3 linked regions of the Homo sapiens genome follow. The protein of the gene in region 1 purifies or fractionates together with the protein of each later gene. This does not show direct contact. Each region holds a gene or a part of one and is shown in the gene's direction. Other genes may lie near its edges.

Region 1 (3,811 bases):
TATCATTACCACAAACCCCTTTTAAAGATTCAAAGGTGGAAGAAAGTGATTTATTTTTTCTCTTCAGCATACATATATAAAAGACTTGTCAGATGTTTAATTTGGGGAGGTTGATAATGAAACATATCAACAGAGTATAGTAGTTATAGTAGTGTTTGTGGGTAAATAATTTCCTGGGGTCAGACATATATAAACATATTTGCTTCAAAATGATAAAGGCATGAAATCAGTCTTAAAAATTGAAATGGGGGTGATGGGGGAGAAAAAGAAGAACAAATTTGAAGTGCCCTTTCAAATCTGCTGGATACAAGTATTGAAGTTTTAAGTCATCTTATTCTGTCTGAAAGTGTATTTTTCATTCTACAATAGACCCAATCAACAAGACGTATAACTTGAGTTGCATGATGTTCAGTTTATGTAATCTACTGTTGGGATGGTAAGAATTGATGTAGGCTGTGGTGTAAGAATGAATTAAAATATAGTTTCACTGGCTTTTCTCTACATATCCACTATCACAATGGCTAGGTTTCCTGTTGCTCACTATTGGATTCTGGAGAAAAATTTAATGAAAGATGATATCAGAGGAAGAATAAGTGGAGGTAGAGAAGAAAGGAATGATAGAGGAGGGGAAAAAAACAAAACATATTTTTGTGTTATCCAAAGGAGCTTTTTCCTTATTCTGTCAAGCATTGAGATCTTCTTCAGCTTTCAATGTAGTTGCTAAATACAAATAATGCTACTAGGTAGTGACTAAATATAGCAAACACTTCATCAGATATTAGAATTAGGTCACACTATTGAGGTTATAATCTGAAGGTTGTGTTACATAGAAACCACTTTAGATTATTATCAACTTGGACTAGGCTTTATTTTATAATAGCATAGTAAGTAATATCTATTGTGTCATTTCTTCAACCATTTTATTCTAAGATCCATGAAGCTTCTTGAGGCCAAATAAAATAATAAGTTTAGACAAGAAGTAGATTGTGACTTTTTTCCCTTAGAGATACTATTTACTATCTCCTATCCTGATAGGTGGAAGGTTTACTGAATTGGAAATTGGTTGACTATTAGTTTTTAACTAAAATGTGCAATAACACATTGCAGTTTCCTCAAACTAGTTTCCTATGATCATTAAACTCATTCTCAGGGTTAAGAAAGGAATGTAAATTTCTGCCTCAATTTGTACTTCATCAATAAGTTTTTGAAGAGTGCAGATTTTTAGTCAGGTCTTAAAAATAAACTCACAAATCTGGATGCATTTCTAAATTCTGCAAATGTTTCCTGGGGTGACTTAACAAGGAATAATCCCACAATATACCTAGCTACCTAATACATGGAGCTGGGGCTCAACCCACTGTTTTTAAGGATTTGCGCTTACTTGTGGCTGAGGAAAAATAAGTAGTTCGAGGAAGTAGTTTTTAAATGTGAGCTTATAGATAGAAACAGAATATCAACTTAATTATGAAATTGTTAGAACCTGTTCTCTTGTATCTGAATCTGATTGCAATTACTATTGTACTGATAGACTCCAGCCATTGCAAGTCTCAGATATCTTAGCTGTGTAGTGATTCTTGAAATTCTTTTTAAGAAAAATTGAGTAGAAAGAAATAAACCCTTTGTAAATGAGGCTTGGCTTTTGTGAAAGATCATCCGCAGGCTATGTTAAAAGGATTTTAGCTCACTAAAAGTGTAATAATGGAAATGTGGAAAATATCGTAGGTAAAGGAAACTACCTCATGCTCTGAAGGTTTTGTAGAAGCACAATTAAACATCTAAAATGGCTTTGTTACACCAGAGCCATCTGGTGTGAAGAACTCTATATTTGTATGTTGAGAGGGCATGGAATAATTGTATTTTGCTGGCAATAGACACATTCTTTATTATTTGCAGATTCCTCATCAAATCTGTAATTATGCACAGTTTCTGTTATCAATAAAACAAAAGAATCCTGTTTGTGTGGTTTCATGAAATCAGCATTGTTGAATGCATGAAGTAATAATGCTAAATTAACATTTTTATGATGTCTCAAGGTTTCTGGTCAAGGGAAGTAAATGTAGGATAGTATTTTTACACCAAAATGACACAGAGAGAATTGAGCACACCAGAAAGACCAGAAACCACACCACTGGATAGAGATTCAATATGTTTCTTTTTCAAACATTTGGACAAGAAAAAAATGGGCATTTAAAAATTCTTCCTTCCCCTGGTTATGGATTTATCTGTAGTAAAACTTAGCTTTGTCGTTTGAGATTTGCACAGAATGGGGGGAGTAGATTACCTCTTCCCATTCATTGTCATAATGGATCTACATCACTGATAAACACCATACTTCTATATGTGGTTAACTAGCTTTAGAATAAAAGACACTTTAAAAAGTAAAAGGCCTAGAGATCTTCAATGAAGTGTCCCTTTTAGCCAAACCAGGCCTTGCAGAAATTGTCCTCAAAAGCACCAAGGGAGAACAAAGCCAAGTGCAGAATTACCCAAGGGTCACACATTTTGTATTCATTTTCTTATAATTTGCCCAAATGATTTGAAGTACAGCAAAACCTGAAGTTTTGCAAAGAGTTACTGTAAACTGAACTTAAAAATGTCAGAGTGCTCGGTGACCCACTTCTCCAGACCCTGTCAACCTGTGAAAATATTGGCCTTTATTCAGATCTCTCAAGAAGTTACGCGCAGAGTTTGGAAGGTCTAGGCAAAGGTTATTAGTCAAGTGTTCTTACAGTGTCAACGCTCAATTCCCACAAGCGTGAGAAAGAGAGACCTGTCATTCCTGAGGGTGATGACATACATTTACTGGAGCTTATATAATTTATCAGATAAGACAGCAGTTTCCTTCAGGGTAGAAAGTGTGTTTTCTACATTGATTTAGTACAAAACAAAAAGAAAAGGGGATATTTCAAATTTTATAATTATTTTTCTGCTAAGCTGATTCAGTGTGATTTAAGCATATTTTTCAAATCATGAATCTGATTCCATATACATATGTGCCTTATATTGTGATAATTTATTTTTAAGTGAAATATGCTATCATAGCCTGACTTTATGTATAGTGGTGACAACTTGCAGGATCGCATTTCTGTAACCAAACGGCCGACAGCTGAGGTGTAGATGCTTCCTATGGTCTGTAGAATAATCACTGGGCTTGTTCTCTAGCTATGTCTGTATGCAATCGCGACAGTGTTGATCAAAACCCATGATCATTCTCTCCAAAGGTCTTTGTCACTAAGCCACTAGGGATTCTGAAAAGTTCGTGAGCTGAAACAAATAAATTGAGTTGGAAGATTCATGTTGACTGTTTGTATCCCAAATGCAATATACCAGTTTTTGAAGCTGAACTGATTACATTAAAAAGGGATCAAGCTGCATTTGTTTTAAAGATAGTTACATGACCAAAAGTTGCTCAACATCATTGGTCATTAGATATGTGCAATCAAACCTGCAATGAGATATCACTTCACCCCAGTTAAAATGGCCTATATCCAAAATGCAGGTAATAACAAATGCTGGTAAGGGTGCAGAGAAAAGGGAACCCTCTTACACTGTTGTTGGGAATGTAAATTCATACAACCACTATGGAGAACAGTTTGGAGGTTCCTCAGAAAACTAAACATTGAGGTATGATATGATCCAGCAATCCCACTGCTAGGTATACATCCAAAAGAAAGGAACTCATTACATCAAAAAGATATCTGCAATTCTATTTTTGTTACAGCACTGTTTACAATAGCTATGATTTGGAAGCAACCTAAGTGTCCATCAATAGATGAATGGATGAAGAAAATGTGGTACATGTACACAATGG
Region 2 (3,833 bases), on another chromosome or scaffold:
GGGAGACTTCGTCTCAAAAAAAAAAAAAAAAAAAAAAGGCAGATACAAAAAGCCACGTGCTGTATGATTCTATTTATACGAAATGTCCAGAAACAGGCAAGTTTATCCACACAAAAAGTAGTTGCCAGGGGGATGAAGGGAGAGGAGAATTGAGAGTGACAATTAAGAGGTAAGTGGTTGCTTTTTGGAGTGATGAAAACATTATGGAATTAGATAGTGGTGATTTTTGTGCAACTTTGTGAATATACTGAAATCCACTGAATTGCACTCTTTTAACTGGTGTGTGTATATATATATGTGTGTGTGTGTGTGTGTGTATATATATATAAATTTTTTTTTTTTTTGAGAAGGAGTCTCGCTCTGTCGCCCAGGCTGGAGTGCAGTGGCGCAATCTCAGCTCTCTGCAAGCTCTGCCTCCCGGGTTCACGCCTTTTCCTGCCTCAGCCTCCTGGGTAGGTGGGACTACAGGCACCCACCACCTCGCCTGGCTAAGTTTTTTTGCTTTGTATTTTTATTAGAGACGGGGTTTCACCATGTTAGCCAGGATGATCTCGATCTCCTGACGTCGTGATCTGCCTGCCTTGGCCTCCCAGTGCTGGGATTACAGGCTTGAGCCACCGCGCCCGGCCGGTCAATATATATATTTTTTGAGACAGGGTCTGTCTCTGTCGCCCAGGCTGGAGTGCAGTGATGCAGCCGTAGGTCATTGCAGCCTTGAACTCCTGGGCTCAAGCGAGCCTCCCACCTCAGCCTACCAAGTAGGTGGGACTACAGGTACACACCACCATGCCCAGCTAATTTTTTTCTTTTTCTTTTTCAGTAGAGACAAGGTCTCCCTATGTTGTCCAGGCCGGTCTTAAACTCCTGGGTTCAAGCAATCCTCCTGCTTTGGCCTCCCAAAGTGCTGGGATTACAGGCACATGAGCCACTGTGCCTGGCCTAAAACAGTACCTTTTAAGTTAAGTGAATTATATTTCAATTAAAAAAGTATATCCACACTCTCAAATAAATTAAAACTTAAAAACAAAATACATAACAATCGCCAGTAGAAGCACTGCAGGTAAAGTTCAAGCCCCTCCCCACTGCATTCTCCTCACCCTCAGCTTTCATTACAACCACTTAACAGGTTCCCCACAGCTCACTCCTCAGACAAGCAGGATAAACAGCCCTTGCCTAGAACTAGTTCTACTTCTCCATGTCTGCAGTCATCAAAGTTCACATGCCTGAACATCTCACAGTTACTTTCCAATGGGCTCATATTTCACCTCTACCTTCTCCGCTTACCGAAATGCTCTTCATCCTTCAAGAATCAAATTCCGACTCATCCATGAAGTGAACTCCAGCCTTCGAAAGCTTTTTTTCCCCCTAACTACTACAGAACAGATGATATGGAAACAATCTGCATCAGGCCAGCCGCGGTGGCTCATACCTGTAGTCCCAGCACTTTGGGAGGCCAAGGCGGGTGGATCATTTGAGGTCAAGCGTTCGAGACCAGCCTGGCCAACATGGAGAAACCCTGTCTCTACTAAAAATACAAAAATGAGCCGGGTGTGGTGGTGCGTGCCTGTAACCCCAGCTACTTGGGAGGCTGTGGCTGGAGAATCACTTGAACACGGGAGGCAGAGGTTGCAGTGAGCCAAGATCGTGCCATTGCACTCCAGCCTGGGCGACATAGTGAGACACTGTCTCAAAAAATTAAAAAAATTACCTTAAAAATCTCAAACCCCTTAAACATCCCACATGCCTCATTCTTCCAGAAAAAGAAAGTTGAACCGGTGGGGTAAAGGAATGGTAAAAGTGGCCGGGTGCTGTAGCTCACGCCTATAATCTCAGCACTTTGGGAGGCTGAGGCGGGTGGATCACCTGAGGTCAGGAGTTCGAGACCAGACTGACCAATATGGTGAAACCCCGTCTCTACTAAAAATACAAAAAAATTAGACGTGGTGGTGTGCGCCTGTAGTCACAGCTACTCGGAGGCTGAGACAGGAGAATTTCTTGAACCCGGGAGGCGGAGGTTGCAGTGAGCCAAGATTGCGCCACTGCACTCCATCCTGGGCGACAGCAAGACTCTCTCTCTCAAAAAAAAAAAAGGGAATGGTAAAAGTTACCTAAAGTCAGCTTTCCAGGTGCATTAATGGAGAGAAGCAGTGGCATGGATAATTTAGAGGAGCTGTTTTATCCTACAGTCTTCTGTGTGCTAGTTTGCAAGGTTGTAGACAGCGTACTGGCCAGAATGGATTCTGGGGGCTGACCATATTAGCAAATTGTGTAGTCTTAAAGCCGTTTTATTTATAGGAAAGTTGGTGTTTTTGACCTGGAAATATATAAGACTGAAATAATGAGACAGTGTTTTTGAGCTCAGCTGTCTTTTGCTCAGCTCTTTACATGTTATTAGAAATGTCCCACATCACGTCAGTCCTAATGACCAGATCGCTCAGCTTCTCGCCATTCAGGTCCAGTATAAAATTTTGATTATTTTTACTTAAAAGATCTGTTTTTGTTTTGGATGCCAGATGAGTTAAAGAAAAAGTGATATGTTAGCCAGCAAATGGGAACATATTCAAAAGGTTTTGTGTGTCAGACCTGACTTAGAATAATTAGCATAGCATTTTTTTGTCGGTACTAACTCTGGTGAAAATCATAACAGAATCTTCTGTCTCCTAGAGTTCCCTTGGTCTGAGTCTGTCCTTTAATAGAGGTTGGTGCAAAAGTAGTTGTGGTTTTTACTTTTGCACCAACCTAATAGATAACTTCTCGTTCCTTCTGTTACAAAATGAGCATAACTTTGGAAAGACGATCAGGTGTATTTTGTTTTTTCAGTTCTTTGTATCAAAGGGAGGTGACAGTGTTAAGAGTAATGTTTAAATAGGTGGAGAAATTTTAATTGACATTGAAATATAGATTTTGATTTTTTTGATAGGGCTTCTGCATGCCTAATGATTTTCTCAGTATAATATTAAAATGGATATATATTCTTAGAGTGTACATTGAACAGTCTTTGGGAAGAGTGGATGGTGTTGGGGTGAAGCTGCTGCCGTATTTAGTTTTCAAAATAGAATTCAGGAAATGGATCATATGTATTTGGATTACTGAAAGTCAGTTTCATTAAAATGTTCCTAAAGGGGCCAGGCGTAGTGGCTCACGCTTGTAATCCCAGCACTTTGGGAGGCTGAGGCAGGCGGATCACCTGAGGTCAGGAGTTCAACCCTCCCTCTACTAAAAAAATAAAATAAAATAAAATAAAAAATAGCCAGATGTGGTGGTGGGTGCCTGCAGTCCCAGCTACTTAGGAGGCTGAGGCAGGAGAATCACTCCAACCTGGGAGGCAGAGGTTGCAGTGAGCCGATATTGCGCCACTGCAATCCAGCTTGGGCAACAGAGTGAGACTCCATCTCAAAAAAAAAAAAAAAGCTTCCTAAAGCTTCAACAGTAGACTTGTGTAGTACAAATCCCCTTCGTTCTAGATCTCCCCACTTTGGTTTTAGGATTTAGCCTTTGTTCGTTCTGCTTGTTTCTTTTTCTGTTGCTGGCAATAAAACTTTCCAGTTATGATGCATTATGCTTTTAATACCCTGCTGGATTGGATTTGTATGTGTATTTGCAGTGAAAGCTTGTTTGCCATTTTCCTCTGATGGTGACTTTTGACCACATTTCCATAGGTTTGGAGATACTGTGTTCTCGTTAGTTTTTAAATAGTCTGTTACTTTAGTTTTAATTTCTTCTTTGAGTCATGAGTTATTAGAAGAGTGTCTTATTTTCCATATCATGGTGAGCTAATATTAATTTTTATTAAGATCAGAATGTGGCTGTAATATTTCTACATTTTGCAGTAA
Region 3 (3,600 bases), on another chromosome or scaffold:
TTCATTCTCATAAGGAATTTAGAGAAGTTAAACAAAATAGTTGAGCGTGGCTAGAGTACATACTAGAGAGTAGTTAGAGGCTGCTTGCACCGCCTTATAAATTTTGCCAAGGAGCTCACACTATCCTGAGAGGTTGGTGGGGGGAACCATTGAATGATTTTAAGCAGAAAGTAACATGACATTTACGTTTTGGAAAGAATCATTCTAGTTACTTAAACTATTGGGGGTGATGATCTTTAGGAAAGCAGTGGGTTTGGAACTGACCAGCTTTTCCCCTCATCATTTTGGCCATAGTATGGAAACTTAATTAGAGGAAGGCAAGACTAGAGTCAAGGAAACTGGTTAGAGATTCTTTTGATAATTTAGACAAAAGAGGAGGGTGTCCTGAACTTGACTGGTGGCCATGGAAATAAAGATTGGCAAGTTTGAGAAGCCTTTAGGCATTAGAATTGACTTGGTTGGACTGGAGGAAGTAATAATGAGACCATAAACTTGGTGGTGTTGGTGGGTGCACATGAAAGTACTGATGTGTGCTGTGACTGGTAAACCAAATTAAAAACAAAGTTATACCTTTGATCCTCTAGAGTAGCCAGTAACCATACTATATTAAATGATTTTCCCTCTTGATCTTTCAGTGACCCTGTTTCTCCAATAGAGATTTTCCTAACTGGCAGCTCTGGCCTTTCAGAAAAACTTGCTTCACTTCTCCTAATTTTGCTGCAAAACCCAGCCATGGCTTGTTTGCCATTCTGTCAGCCACTATAGTTGACCAGATGATCAAAGAAACTAGAAATGATAGATCCTTTGATTTCCAAAAGTGCACAGAACACACTGAGGACTGTCACAATGCCACCACGCTGAGAAAGAGCTAGATCTGCCTTTTTGACATGATGGGCATTGGTTATTAGGAGTCTTTAGGCTTTGGGAGAGCGATTCAATAAGAGATAAAAGTTTAGACAGAATTTCATTGTTGCCTGGGTTTATGTTAGCCAAGAGAACCTGCTAAAACAATTCTGTATCAATTACCAACAGTGAAGCACTACAGGAGGCAGCTGTGGCATTGCTTCCTTAACCAGTATTTGGATAGTTTTAACTATGGTATTAACTCTCTGTTTCTCAACCATAGTCATCATACAGTGGTCTGAGGTACCTTTCAAGTAGATGATTACAAATAACAAAACACCCAAGTTGGAGATGATTTACTTTTAAAAATTTTTAAATAAATTTAAGCTGATTGAAGATTATCCCTTCCAATGTTCCTCTCACTCACCCATATCTTGATATTGAGTGGATGGAATTTTACCTAGTTTGCTAGAAATTGTCTCTAACACATAACCATTTGTGTGTTATATTACTGTCCTGTGCATGGAGAGAGAAGAGAAGATGTCTGTGTGCACATCATGTGTTTCCTTGTGGAAAATAAAAAAGATCGTGGAACAGTATAACTTAATACATTTTCTCTCTGAATCTGTTATAGTGTGATAACTGTGGCATAGAACCCATCCAGGGTGTTCGGTGGCATTGCCAGGATTGTCCTCCAGAAATGTCTTTGGATTTCTGTGATTCTTGTTCAGACTGGTAAGTGTTTTCTTCATTGTCAGTCTTCAACTTAGACAAGAAAAGAGCTTCTCAGCCATTAGTGAATTTGATTTCCAAACATAGAAAATATTAATACCCACACTTAGTGAATTAAATTTTGTTGTTCTAGGCAATTAATTTTTTTCTGTAATCATACCACATGTCAAGTAACTTTCCGTTGGAGATTTTGATAGATTAATGGATTTAAACAGGGAGAGCTGTGAGGAAGCTTTGTAATACACAGACTAAAATGCATCCACTACCATGTAATGATGTGTGTCTTTTTTTCTTTACAGTCTACATGAAACAGATATTCACAAGGAAGATCACCAATTAGAACCTATTTATAGGTCAGAGACATTCTTAGACAGAGACTACTGTGTGTCTCAGGGCACCAGTTACAATTACCTTGACCCAAACTACTTTCCAGCAAACAGATGACATGGAAGAGAACATCATTTACTAGTCCTCTTCAACACATAGCAATGGTATCATTGTTAATTATGTGCACAGTTTGGAAAGATTCTCTGCTTTCCCAGAAATGACACTCACAGCATGAGAGCTTCCTGAGTGTTCTCGTCAAGTACAGCTCTGCACCGTTGTGGCTCTAGATCACTGTTCAGCAGCTGAACATTCCTGGTGAGCAAAGGTTTCCCTGGTGAATTTTTCACCACTGCGTTTTAGGTGGTGATCTTAAATGGGTGAGATGGAACGAGAGCACACATTAAAGAGAGAGTAAATTCCAAAGGTTTCAAAGAACTTGGTCATAAATATGATAATGAGAAGACAAAGTATTTATATTAAAACAGTTTAGTAGCCTTCAGTTTTGTGAAAATAGTTTTCAGCACAGAAACTGACTTCTTTAGACAAAGTTTTAACCAATGATGGTGTTTGCTTCTAGGATATACACTTTAAAAGAACTCACTGTCCCAGTGGTGGTCATTGATGGCCTTTAGTAAATTGGAGCTGCTTAATCATATTGATATCTAATTTCTTTTAACCACAATGAATTGTCCTTAATTACCAACAGTGAAGCACTACAGGAGGCAACTGTGGCATTGCTTCCTTAACCAGCTCATGGTGTGTGAATGTTATAAAATTGTCACTCAGATATATTTTTTAAATGTAATGTTATATAAGATGATCATGTGATGTGTACAAACTATGGTGAAAAGTGCCAGTGGTAGTAACTGTGTAAAGTTTCTAATTCACAACATTAATTCCTTTAAAATACACAGCCTTCTGCCTCTGTATTTGGAGTTGTCAGTACAACTCATCAAAGAAAACTGCCTAATATAAAAATCATATATATGGTAATAATTTCCCTCTTTTGTAGTCTGCACAAGATCCATAAAAGATTGTATTTTTATTACTATTTAAACAAGTGATTAAATTTAGTCTGCACAGTGAGCAAGGGTTCACATGCATTCTTTTATACTGCTGGATTTTGTTGTGCATCATTTAAAACATTTTGTATGTTTCTTCTTATCTGTGTATACAGTATGTTCTTGAATGATGTTCATTTGTCAGGAGAACTGTGAGAAATAAACTATGTGGATACTGTCTGTTTATATTATAGAATGCTTGTTGTGACTTCCTTTTGGTTAGATTTTGGATTTTTTTTTTTACCAGTGTTAAAACCAGAAATTGGTATTTTTTAAAATGGTTTGCTTCACATATTTAAGAGTTTTCTTTCTGTCATTTATGAAGAATAAGGAATGTATTATGGAAAAGAGGGTGATCTTAAGCAACCCTGTAAAAAATGGTAAAGATTTTTACTCAGTGTGTGCTGAAACACTAAATTAAACTAGCTTACAAAAAGGAAACACGGACCATGGTTAAAGAAAAAGGCAATTATTAATGCTCAGGTGTGAAAACTAAAGTTGAAAATTTTTTTTCTAGTTGTGTCTCATGAAGATAAGCCCCCATGTATTTAAACAGATGGCTTTTGAAAAATCACCTTGTTTCCTGGAAATTACTATTAACTATAGGAAAAGATAGTATAAATATTCTAAGATTGAT

What was found.
Region 2: the proteins of BCAT1 (region 1) and YEATS2 purify together in Homo sapiens (affinity purification with mass spectrometry; 3 studies listed by BioGRID and IntAct, with this or other methods). This does not show direct contact.
Region 3: the proteins of BCAT1 (region 1) and ZZZ3 purify together in Homo sapiens (affinity purification with mass spectrometry; 2 studies listed by BioGRID and IntAct, with this or other methods). This does not show direct contact.

The regions. Positions count from the first base shown.
Region 1 is NC_000012.12:24,809,506-24,813,316, reverse strand, and holds the end of BCAT1 (branched-chain-amino-acid aminotransferase, cytosolic), read left to right. Parts: 3' UTR 1-3,293; downstream 3,294-3,811.
Region 2 is NC_000003.12:183,700,756-183,704,588, forward strand, and holds part of YEATS2 (YEATS domain-containing protein 2), read left to right. Parts: intron 1-3,833. UniProt on the Homo sapiens protein: Chromatin reader component of the ATAC complex, a complex with histone acetyltransferase activity on histones H3 and H4. YEATS2 specifically recognizes and binds histone H3 crotonylated at 'Lys-27' (H3K27cr).
Region 3 is NC_000001.11:77,564,059-77,567,658, reverse strand, and holds part of ZZZ3 (ZZ-type zinc finger-containing protein 3), read left to right. Parts: intron 1-1,477; coding exon 1,478-1,578; intron 1,579-1,874; coding exon 1,875-2,019; 3' UTR 2,020-3,600.